Linked DNA regions of Homo sapiens. The protein of the gene in region 1 purifies or fractionates together with the protein of each later gene. This does not show direct contact. Each region holds a gene or a part of one and is shown on either strand. Other genes may lie near its edges. The genes, in order: SUPV3L1, DNAJC17 and ARMC1.

What was found.
Region 2: the proteins of SUPV3L1 (region 1) and DNAJC17 fractionate together in Homo sapiens (co-fractionation; one large-scale study listed by BioGRID). This does not show direct contact.
Region 3: the proteins of SUPV3L1 (region 1) and ARMC1 fractionate together in Homo sapiens (co-fractionation; one large-scale study listed by BioGRID). This does not show direct contact.

The regions. Positions count from the first base shown.
Region 1 is NC_000010.11:69,200,734-69,204,233, forward strand, and holds part of SUPV3L1 (ATP-dependent RNA helicase SUPV3L1, mitochondrial), read left to right. Parts: intron 1-1,705; coding exon 1,706-1,786; intron 1,787-2,133; coding exon 2,134-2,310; intron 2,311-3,500. UniProt on the Homo sapiens protein: Major helicase player in mitochondrial RNA metabolism. Component of the mitochondrial degradosome (mtEXO) complex, that degrades 3' overhang double-stranded RNA with a 3'-to-5' directionality in an ATP-dependent manner.
Region 2 is NC_000015.10:40,779,780-40,783,627, reverse strand, and holds part of DNAJC17 (dnaJ homolog subfamily C member 17), read left to right. Parts: intron 1-3,630; coding exon 3,631-3,700; intron 3,701-3,848. UniProt on the Homo sapiens protein: May negatively affect PAX8-induced thyroglobulin/TG transcription.
Region 3 is NC_000008.11:65,613,678-65,617,177, reverse strand, and holds part of ARMC1 (armadillo repeat-containing protein 1), read left to right. Parts: intron 1-3,500.

The DNA.
Region 1 (3,500 bases):
GAGCCTGATTTGCCTTTACTTCCTTCCGGAATCTAGCAGCGGGAAGGAACAGGGAGAAAAGCAGTTTCTTCAGCTGAGCACACAGAGCTACATTAGTGGACTGAAAAATGACCAGAAGCCTGAATATAGACGAAACCTTGTATTGCTTGGGGCAAAAACAGCCCTAAGCAATACAACTTCATCCAGTGAGGAGAAGGTTAAATTTTGGTTAATATTAGTTAATGAGTTAGAATTGTACATATTTGAAACAAACTTTCTAGTAATAGTCAAAATTTAAAGTTCCCTGGAAAATTCACTTACATGGCTTATCTCATTTGTGACACTAGATGAAGGGGAGTATAGACATGAGATCATACAGGGAGAAGCATGCAGGGAGAGAAGCTTCCAGGGGAAGGCTGTGCTGGAATCATTTCTGTAACTTCTCAGCAGTACAGTTAGGTTCGTGGTTGGCTCCTGTGACCTCCCTGCTTCCCTCCTGGGCACCTCATGTCTTGGACTCTTCTTCCCTCCCTTATGACTAATTTCTCTTGCCTCTTTTCTTCTGTCTTTTTCATTCACTTTCTCTCTCTGTTTCATACTTCATTCCTTATACTTTCCTGTGGCCATGTCCTAACGGTGTAATGTGTAGCTAAAGAGAACTCACTTCCAGTTTAAAAATGTTCTCATGTCTTTCTAGATGTATATATCTATGTTAGTTTTATTGCCTTGGTTAAAGTGACTGGGTTTTTCTTATTCATTTTAATTCAATGAGGAGAAATGAGACATGGAAAATGGTTTTACCCTGGAAAACAGGTTTTTCTTTCCTTTTTTTTTTTTTTTGAGATAGTGTTTCACTCTGTTACTCAGGCTTCAGTGCTGTGGCATGATCACGGCTCACGGTAACCCCAATCTCCTGAGCTCAGGAGAGCCTTGCACCTCAGCCTCTTGAGCAGCTGGGACTTCAGGTGCTCACCACCATGCTTGGCTGATTTTTTAAAAATTTTTTGTAGAGATGGGAATCTCCTTTTGTTGCCCAGGCTGATCTTGAACTACTGTCCTCAAGTAATCCTCCCACCTTGGCCTCCCAAAGTGTTGGGATTACAGGCATGAGCCACTGCACCTGGCCGTAAAATCTTTTTTTTTTTTTTAGACGGAGTCTTGCTCTGTCGCCAGGCTGGAGTGCAGTGGCGCGATCTCGGCTCACTGCAAGCTCTGCCTGCTGGGTTCAAGTGATTCTCATGCCTCAGCCTCCCGAGTAGCTGGGATTACAGGCACGCAGCACCACACCCAGCTAATTTTTGCATTTTTAGTAGAGACGGGGTTTCACCATGTTGGGCAGGATGGTCTCAATCTCCTGACCTCGTGATCCGCCCACCTTGGCCTCCCAAAGTGCTGGGATTACAGGCATGAGCCACCACACCCAGCCCATAAAATCATTTTTTGTACACTGCCAGATCATCATAGGTTTTAGAAATATAACTAAAATGTAAGCAAAAGACTAATTTCTCAGTGGCCATAATCTGTCATTTTTACTAAATCATCAACTTTTCTAATTGGTAATAAATGGTAAAATGATATTTTTTCTCTTTTACTCAAATTCTTGGCATTTACTTCATATGGTGAGAGCTTAGCCTGAATGGGACTTTATCGTGCAATAACTTAAGAAAATTTGTCCTTTTTGAAAAAAAAAAAATCAGCTTATGATTGTTTTTTCTTTTACTAAAAGGCAGCTGGTCTTCATCCAACTGCTGAGCAGATTGAAATGTTTGCCTACCATCTCCCTGATGCAACACTGTCCAATCTCATTGTAAGTGGAAACTCCCTTTCACATCTCCCCTAAAAATGTTGATATGTCAGGTGATTACTGGTTAACCTCATGAGCATGAATGGATAGTCTGCCTTTGAGAAGTTGCTATTTATAAAATTTATTTTACAAGTGAAAATTTTTTCTCAAAATCTTTTGGGACTTTAGCCCTGAGGAATTTCCTCTCAGTATTTCAGGTGGGGAAGGATATGAGGGAGTGATTAAAGCAAGCCTTTATGGAAGTTTGTTCTGGATTAAAGAGATTGTCTTTTATAGACTTGAGTATGTTATTCATTGTTCATTTTAATTCACTTAGGCAGTCCAGTAATTTCTGTCTTTTTTTCCCCAAGGATATTTTTGTAGACTTTTCACAAGTTGATGGGCAGTATTTTGTCTGCAATATGGATGATTTTAAATTTTCTGCAGAGTTGATCCAGCATATTCCACTAAGTCTGCGAGTGAGGTATGTTTTCTGCACAGCTCCTATCAACAAGAAGCAGCCTTTTGTGTGTTCTTCACTGTTACAGGTAAGCCTTTATCTTTAAGCTATTTTGAGTTCCTTCTGGTTGATGCAGGTTCCCCAAACAGTACTTTGTTATTCAAAATAAAATAATTACAAGAGTATTCAGTAATATGAGAGACTTTGTAAAAACTTAAATAGGGGTTAATAGTAGCAACAGTGTTCAGTTTTCTTAAGTGTAAAGCACTGAGCCAGGGGTTACTGTCTTGTATGAGCACCATGCCAGGGTTCTAGCCTCTTTTAACTCATTTGGGTAGGGATGCAAATCTCTGACTTCTGAGAAGCACAGGATTCCTGGGGGCCAGGAAGGACAGTGGACTATGGAGAACCATAAATCTCTACCAAGGCCGGGTGCAGTGGCTCACGCCTGTAATCCCAGCACTTTGGGAGGCCGAGGCGGGTGGATCACTTGAGGTCAGGAATTCGAGACCAGCCTGGCCAAGCTGGTGAAACCCTGTCTCTACTAAAAATACAAAAATTATCCGGGCATGGTGGTGGGCACCTGTAATCCCAGCTACTCGGGAGGCTGAGGCAGGAGAATCACTTAAACCAAGGAGGCAGAGGTTGCAGTGAGCCAAGATCGCACCATTGCACTCCAGCCTGGGTGACAGAGCGAGACTCTGTCTCAAAAAAAAAAAAAACAAAACTCTACCAAGGTTTATCATAACAATACTTTTATTTAATTTAATTTTATTTATTTTATATTTGAGGCAGGGTCTTGCTCTGTTGCCCAGGCTGGAGTGCAATGGTGCAATCACAGCTCACTGCAACCTCAACCTCCCTGGCTCAAGTGATCCTGCCACCTCAGCCTCCCAAGTAGCTGGGACTACAGGCATGTGCCACCATGCCCAGCTAATTTTTGCATTTTTTGTAGAGACAGATCTCTCTATGTTACCCAGGCTGGTCTCGAGCTCCTGGAGGCAAGTGATCATCCCACCTCAGCCTCCCAAAGTGCTGGGATTACAGGCATGAGCCACCTAGTCCAGCCTAATATTTTAATTATTAAAAATGTTTTTGAAAGGATCCAAATGTCCAACAAGAGGGAAAAGGTTAACTACATTATGGCATATCCACTTGATTGGATATTAGGAAGACATTGCAATGATAATTATGATTATAATGAAGAAATCTACATAAGTGGTTACACTATAACAGTAAGTGAGGGAAGCGGTTCAGAACTGTATGTACCTTATAAAC
Region 2 (3,848 bases), on another chromosome or scaffold:
CCTCCCACAGCGATGGGATTAGAGGTGTGAGCCACCATGCCCAGCCTAAACCACTTTAAAAGAGCCCCATGATACAAAAGAAAACATCTTCCACAAAACCCCCCTACATCCCTGGGGCAAGCCTACTAGTCCTAGTCCTGAGGAAGTTCATCTTGAAGGTAGTGTTGCAGGTGATGCCATAGATACTGGGACATGGACCGCCTCCCCCTCCCTTCCTCTCACCCATCCCAGAGAGAGGGTGGAGATAGGATCAGAGAGGAGGGGCCCAGAGGCCAGGAACAAACACCCAACAGACTCCTGTCAGTGTGTGTAGGTGCTTTTATATGTGTTAATGAACCTTGATGTCAGAGGGCTGGGGAGATTGAGAAAGAACATCTTTATAATGTTTTTGGTATTGTTTTACTTATTGAAAAAAAGCAAACAGGGGCCCTGAAATATAAAATATGTTCAGTAAAGGAATGAGGCTGGAGGCACAATAAAGCAGGCAAAGAGAGCAAAAGAAAGAAAAGACGAATGATAAGGGACCTAAAAAGTAAAGATGATATATTGCAAAGATGACACTGTCTTAAGCTAGCACCTCCTTTCCCTTAATATTGTTCTTTTTTGTAGTGAAAACAGAGCTAGGCAGGGAGGGTTAGGGTGGGAGGTGAGCAGGCAGGGCAGATGTGCTTCGGTGGGCGATTGGGAAGGCAGGTGGCACGTCTACACCCTCTCTGCCCAGCGCCTGTCCTGGGTGGTTCCTGCTGCCTCCAAGGCAGTCAGGAGAACCAAACAGCTTGGGCTGCCATGGCAGGTGCCCTGGCTATGGCCCAGCAGGTGGCAGCACACCCCTAGAGGTCCTGGGCCCGGTGGCTGCCTCATGGATGGAGGAGTTGCCCAGCAGGTGCTCACCTTGTGGATGCTGGCTGCTTACCTCTGAAAGTCCTTATTTAGCACACTTGGGTGTAGAAGCGTTTCTTGCGTCCATCTTGGAAGCTTAGAAATCCAATCTGCTTAGCTCTTCCTCCAGGAGGTTTGAGCAGCAGGTAACACACACCAAGCAGAAGGGAGAAAGCAAAGGCCTTGGAGGCAGAGGACGGATTCTGGGGTTGTGTACACTGTCTTCACTTACAACAGCTATTAGGTAGCACACGAAAGAGAATCTTGGTAGCTGTGTTTATTTTTACTTATGTAAGAAATATTGGGGTTTCTTTCTTTCTATGTATTTAAGAGAGAGTCTTGCTCTGTCACCCAGGCTGGAGTGCAGTGGCATCATCATAGCTCACGGCAGCCTCAAAATCCTTGGCTGAGGTGATCCTCCCTCCTCAACCTCCTTAGTAGCTGGTACTGCAGGCACGCACCACTATGCCTGGCTAATTTTTTATTTTATTTTAATTTAATTTAAAATTTTTTTATTTTTATTTTTGAGACAAGGTCTCACTCTGTCACCTAGGCTGAAATGCAGTGGTGTGAACATGCTCACTACAGCTTCAACCTCCCGGGCTCCAGTGATCCTCCCACCTCAGCCTCCTGAGTAGGGGGACAAAGGCACATGCTACCACACCTGGCTCATGTTTAAAAAATTTTTGTAGAGATGAGGTCTTGCCATGTTGCCCAGGCTTGGCTGGAACTCCTGGGCTCAAGCGATCCTCTCGCCTCAACCGCCTGAGTAGCTGGGACTACAGGCATGCACCACCACACCTGACAAAAAAAAATTTTTTTTTTTTGAGACAGAGTCTCATTCTGTCTCCCAGGCTGCAGTGCAATGGTGTGATCTCGGCTCACTGCAACCTCTGCCTCCCAGGTTCAAGCGATTCTCCTGCCTCAGCCTCTCGAGTAGCTGGGACTACAGGCGCCCGCCACCATGCCTGGCTAATTTTTTTGTATTTTTAGTAGAGACGGGGTTTCACCGTGTTAGCCGGGATGGTCTCAATCTCCTGACCTCGTGATCCACCTGTCTCGGCCTCCCAAAGTGCTGGGATTACAGGCTTGAGCCACCGCACCTGGACTAAACTCAAAAGTTTATAATAAGATCTATGTCAGAACATGGATACCTCTGTCTACTATAATATTTTATTTAAAAAAAATTTTAATAAGCGTGGCAAATTCCTGAACAAACTTTTTGAAATTTATTTTTTATTATTTTTTTGAGACAAGGTCTCCCTCTGTCACTCAGGCTAGAGTACAATGGCATGATCTCGGCTCACTGCAACCTCCGCCTCTGGGGCTCAAGTGATTCTCCTGCCTCAGCCTCCCAAGTAGCTGGGTCTACAGGTGCACGCCACCATGCCCGGCTAATTTTTGTATTTTTAATAGAGACAGGGTTTTGCTTTGTTGGCGAGGCTGGTCTCGAACTCCTGACCTCAAGTGATCTGCCCACCTCAGCCTCCCAAAGTGCCAGGATTACAGGCATGAGGATTACAGGATTACATGCCAGGATTACAGGATTACACCATGTCTGGCCAATCATAATCTTTTTTTTTTTTTTTTTTTTTCTGAGATGGAGTCTCGCTCTTGTCCCACAGGCTGGAGTGTAGTGGCACAATCTTGGCTCACTGCAACCTCTGCCTCCTGCATGAATCAAGCGATTCTCATGCCTCAGCCTCCCAAGTAGGGGGATTACAGGGGAATATGTCATCACACCCAGCTAATTTTTGTATTTTTAGTAGAGATGGGGTTTCGCCATGTTGGCCAGGCTGGTCTCCTACTCCTGACCTCAAGTGATCCACCCGCCTCAGCCTCCCAAAGTGCTGTGATTACAGGCGTGAGCCACCATGTCCGGCCTCAATCATAATCTTTTATTTTATTTTTTATTTTATTTTATTTTATTTTATTTGAGACAGAGTCTTGCTCTGTCGCCAGGCCGGAGTGTAGTGGTGCGATTTCGGCTCACTGCAACCTCCGCCTCCTCGGTTCAAGCGATTCTCCTGCCTCAGCCTCCCAAGTAGCTGGGATTACAGCTGCCCGCCACTATGCCTAGCTAATTTTTGTATATTTAGTAGAGATGGAGTTTCACTATGTTAGTGAGGCTGGTCTCAAACTCCTGACCTCAGGTGATCTGTCCACCTCAGCCTCCCAAAGTGCTGGGATGACAGGCGTGAGCCACCGCACCGGCCAATCATAATCTTTTAAATGAGTCTCCCCGTTGATGGGGATCTTGGCTGGCTAGTATCAACAGTGTTGTAGAGAGCATCCTTGTATATTTATTTTTGCCATACTTCTACAAGTCCAGATTCCTAGGACTTGGGTCAAAGGGAAAGAACATTTTAAATTTTGATGGCTGAATTTTCTTCCAGATAGGTTGCCCCAGTTTATATGCCCACCAAGAATGTGTAGAGTACCTGTCTTCGAGTGGCTGTCGAGAAAGCGGGGTACTGTGCTCCTGCCTGTTGCAGCAGCCCCTGGACATCTGCAGTGGTGAGGTTGAGCACTTAGCAGGAGGTGGGCCCAGCTCCTGTGCTGGGCGACAGTGGCTCACTCCCTCCATGGCCTTGGCCTCCTCCATTGCCAGTCTCCCTGGTGGCTAGGAAGTGGGCGCCAGCAGCTTCTCTTTTAGGTGTGCATGGGATTCCCCTTACCCATTGAGCAAGGTTTTCCTGTTTGTCCCTGGGATGAGAGTGAATGGCCATGTCTTCTGTCTGACTCTTCCAGGTAAAGAAGGCGTATAGGCAGAAGGCCCTCTCCTGCCACCCAGACAAAAATCCAGATAATCCCAGAGCAGGTGAGACTCTTCTCAGGGCGTGGGGAGAAAGAAACCCACTCACCCGGGCATTGTGTTTCCCGATGTAAGCTCTGCATGTGAGTGCTGTGGGGTGTAAGCACACATTGCCTGGCTCCAGGCAATGGGTCCCAGGGCTTCCCTCCTGTGA
Region 3 (3,500 bases), on another chromosome or scaffold:
CTATTCGACAAAACCGCCATCGTCATCATGGCCCGTTCTCAATGAGCTGTTGGGTACACCTCCCAGACAGGGTGGCCGCCGGGCAGAGGGGCTCCTCACTTCCCAGAAGGGGCGGCTGGGCAGAAGCGCCCCCCACCTCCCGGACGGGGTGGCTGGCCGGGCGGGGGCTGCCCCCCGCCTCCCTCCTGGATGGGGCGGCTGCCGGGCGGAGACGCTCCTCACTTCCCAGACGGGGCAGCTGCCGGGCGGAGGGGCTCCTCACTTCTCAGACGGGGCGGCTGCCGGGCGGAGGGGCTCCTCACTTCTCAGACAGGGCGGCTGCCGGGTGGAGGGGCTCCTCACTTCTCAGACAGGGCGGCCGGGCAGAGACGCTCCTCACCTCCCAGACGGGGTCGCGGCTGGGCAGAGGCGCTCCTCACATCCCAGACGGGGCGGCGGGGCAGAGGCGCTCCCCACATCTCAGACTATGGGTGGCCGGGCAGAGACGCTCCTCACTTCCTAGACGTGATGGCGGCCGGGAAGAGGCGCTCCTCACTTCCCAGACTGGGCAGCCGGGCAGAGGCACTCCTCACATCCCAGACGATGGGCGGCCAGGCAGAGACGCTCCTCACTTCCCAGACGGGGTGGCGGCCGGGCAGAGGCTGCAATCTCGGCACTTTGGGAGGCCAAGGCAGGCGGCTGGGAGGTGGAGGTTGTAGCCAGCCGAGATTACGCCACTGCACTCCAGCCTGGGCACCATTGAGCACTGAGTGAACCAGACTCCGTCTGCCATCCCGGCACCTCGGGAGGCCGAGGCTGGCAGATCACTCGTGGTTAGGAGCTGGAGACCAGCCCGGCCAACACAGCGAAACCCCCTCTCCACCAAAAAAATACGAAAACCAGTCAGGCGTGGCAGCGCGTGCCTGCAATCGCAGGCACTCGGCAGGCTGAGGCAGGAGAATCAGGCAGGGAGGTTGTAGTGAGCCGAGATGGCAGCAGTACAGTCCAGCTTCCGCTCGGCATCAGAGGGAGACCGGGAAGAGGGGAGAGGGGAGAGGGAATTACTGTTACAGTTTTTATGCAAAACAGAAAGATAATTTATGTTTTAGTATTTTAATATTTTTTGTCACTATTGCTTCATTAAGCATATTAAACAGTTTTGAAATAATCCAGGTTTTCAAAAAATGTATGACAGTTATTGGATGTTTTATTATGTGTTATGATTCATTTTCTAGTTGATGCAAAACTATTGACAATGGAAAGGAGTAACAATAATACAGTTTTTCTTTCTTCTTTTTTTTTTGTGACGGAGTCTTGCTCTTGTTGCCCACGCTGGAGTGCAATGGCATGATCTCGGCCCACTGCAACCTCCGCCTCCTGGGTTCAAGTGATTCTCCTGCCTCCACCGCCTGAGTAGCTGGGATTACAGGCACCCACCACCACACCTGGCTACTTTATTTTATTTTATTTTATTTATTCATTTTTTCTTTTTAAGAGGGAGCCTCATTCTGTCACCCAGGCTGGCGTGCAGTCGTAGGATCTTGGCTCGCTGCAACCTCCATCTCCCAGGTCCAAGTGATTCTCCTGCCTCAGCCCCCTGAGTAGCTGGGATTATAGACACCTGCCACCACGCCCAGCTAGTTTTTGTGCTTTTTTAGTAGAGACGGGGTTTCGCCATGTTGGCCAGGCTGGGCTCGAACTCCTAACCTCAGGTGATCCACCCACCTCAGCCTCACAAAGTGTTGGAATTACAGGCATGAGCCACTGTACCCGGCCCTGTTTTTTTTTTTTTTTTTTTAACTTAAGTTCGTAAGTTTCTCTAATCATTGTCTCTTCATGCTCTTTATAACTTGTTCTTGGTTAATATTTAAAATATCTGAGAACTGCAGTGACTTTTCAATAAACTCTAAAATAGCTATCAATAAAAATGCTGAGGCAACTAATACAAATTAGTCCTTTTGATAGCTTTCTGTAACACACGGCTAAAGTCACCCAAAGTAACTTATCTCTGTGGTCAACAGTGGCTCAGAAAAGCACTTGATATAGTAATTGAGTGTCTGGAATACTGTCAGATTATCACCCCTGGAATTAAAGCTCTAAGTAGCTAGAACATATACAATCTGAGTATCAGAAATTGAAGTATTCCTACTCATTCACTAAATAACTTGCAAACATTTTTGTTAGGTTCTATGGAAGGTACAAAAAGGATACCTTCCTCCTCTTAAAGAGTTCATATACTTATAAAAGAAATAGAAAATTAAGATCAGTAGTATAAGTACAAGCATAGTACTCTGAATGCAAAGGGAGAATTGGGTTATTAGGTAGAGGCATTATATAGAAGGTGTTGGTCAAGCTGACCCTTCAAGCATTGAAATAAGAGTTGGAAAGCCTGCAGTCTGGGTGAAGCTCTTCCAGCTAAGGAAAGACCTGAACAAAACTTAAGGGTAGAAAGCATTCTAGAACAAAGAACATATAAAAATGCATGGTCTTTGTAGGAGATGGCCAAGTGTCATAGTCAACCCAAAGAATAATAGAAGGACAAAATGAGCTGATGGAGATAGCCAAATGGGGCCAGATTTTAAGGCCTTGAGTGTACATTAAAGGGTTTGGACTTAGTTGAGCCCATTGATAGGTGAAATGAGGATTCTTTTCTTACAGTTACATGTACTTACTCTTTGTTCAGTTCCACTAATAAGAGCCATTAGACTGTGCTGTCCAGTATGGTTAGCCACTCACTCTGTTTGGCAATTTAAATTAATTAAAGGTAAATTAATTTTTTTTAGTTGCACTAGCCACATTTCAAGTGCTCAGTAGCCTCATGTGAGTGGAGAGTGCAGCTATAGAACATTTCTATCATTGCAGAAAGATTATTGGACAGCACAGTCCCCTAGATGTTGATGTGAGGATCTGTAGTAGGATTTAAAAGCTTAAGAATGAAAACTTTTGTTAGAGCTGTGGTTTTATGATAAACACATAATTTGTAATATGTAAAAAATGTAAATTAAAAAATTGGTTTTAACATACAAAGAAATCTTGAAATTAGTTGATAGTATGAATGATCCTTTTCAAATTTGGTTTCTCCTTTTGGATTTTTATATGTTGTATTTTCTTAAAAGTCAAGGTACTTTCAAATTGAGAGTTGAATGTTAGTGATAATACAGGAACATGTTACAACCTGATCTTGTTAGTTGATTTTGTATTTGATTATTTTTATTAAACGTGTGGTTTTTTTTTTTTTTGAGATGGAGTCTCCCTCTGTCACCCAGGCTGGAGCCCAGTGGTGTGATCTGAGCTTGCTGCAACTTCTGCCTCCCGGGTTCAAGTGATTCTCCTCTCTCAGACTCCTGAGTAGCTGGGATTACAGGCATGCGCCACCACACCCAGCTAATTTTTGTATTTTAGTAGAGATGGGGTTTCAGTATGTTGGTCAGGCTTGAACTCCTGACCTCAAGTGATCCACCTGCCTTGGCCTCCCAAAGTGCTGGGTTTACAGGCATGAGCCACTGTGCCTGGCCAAATGT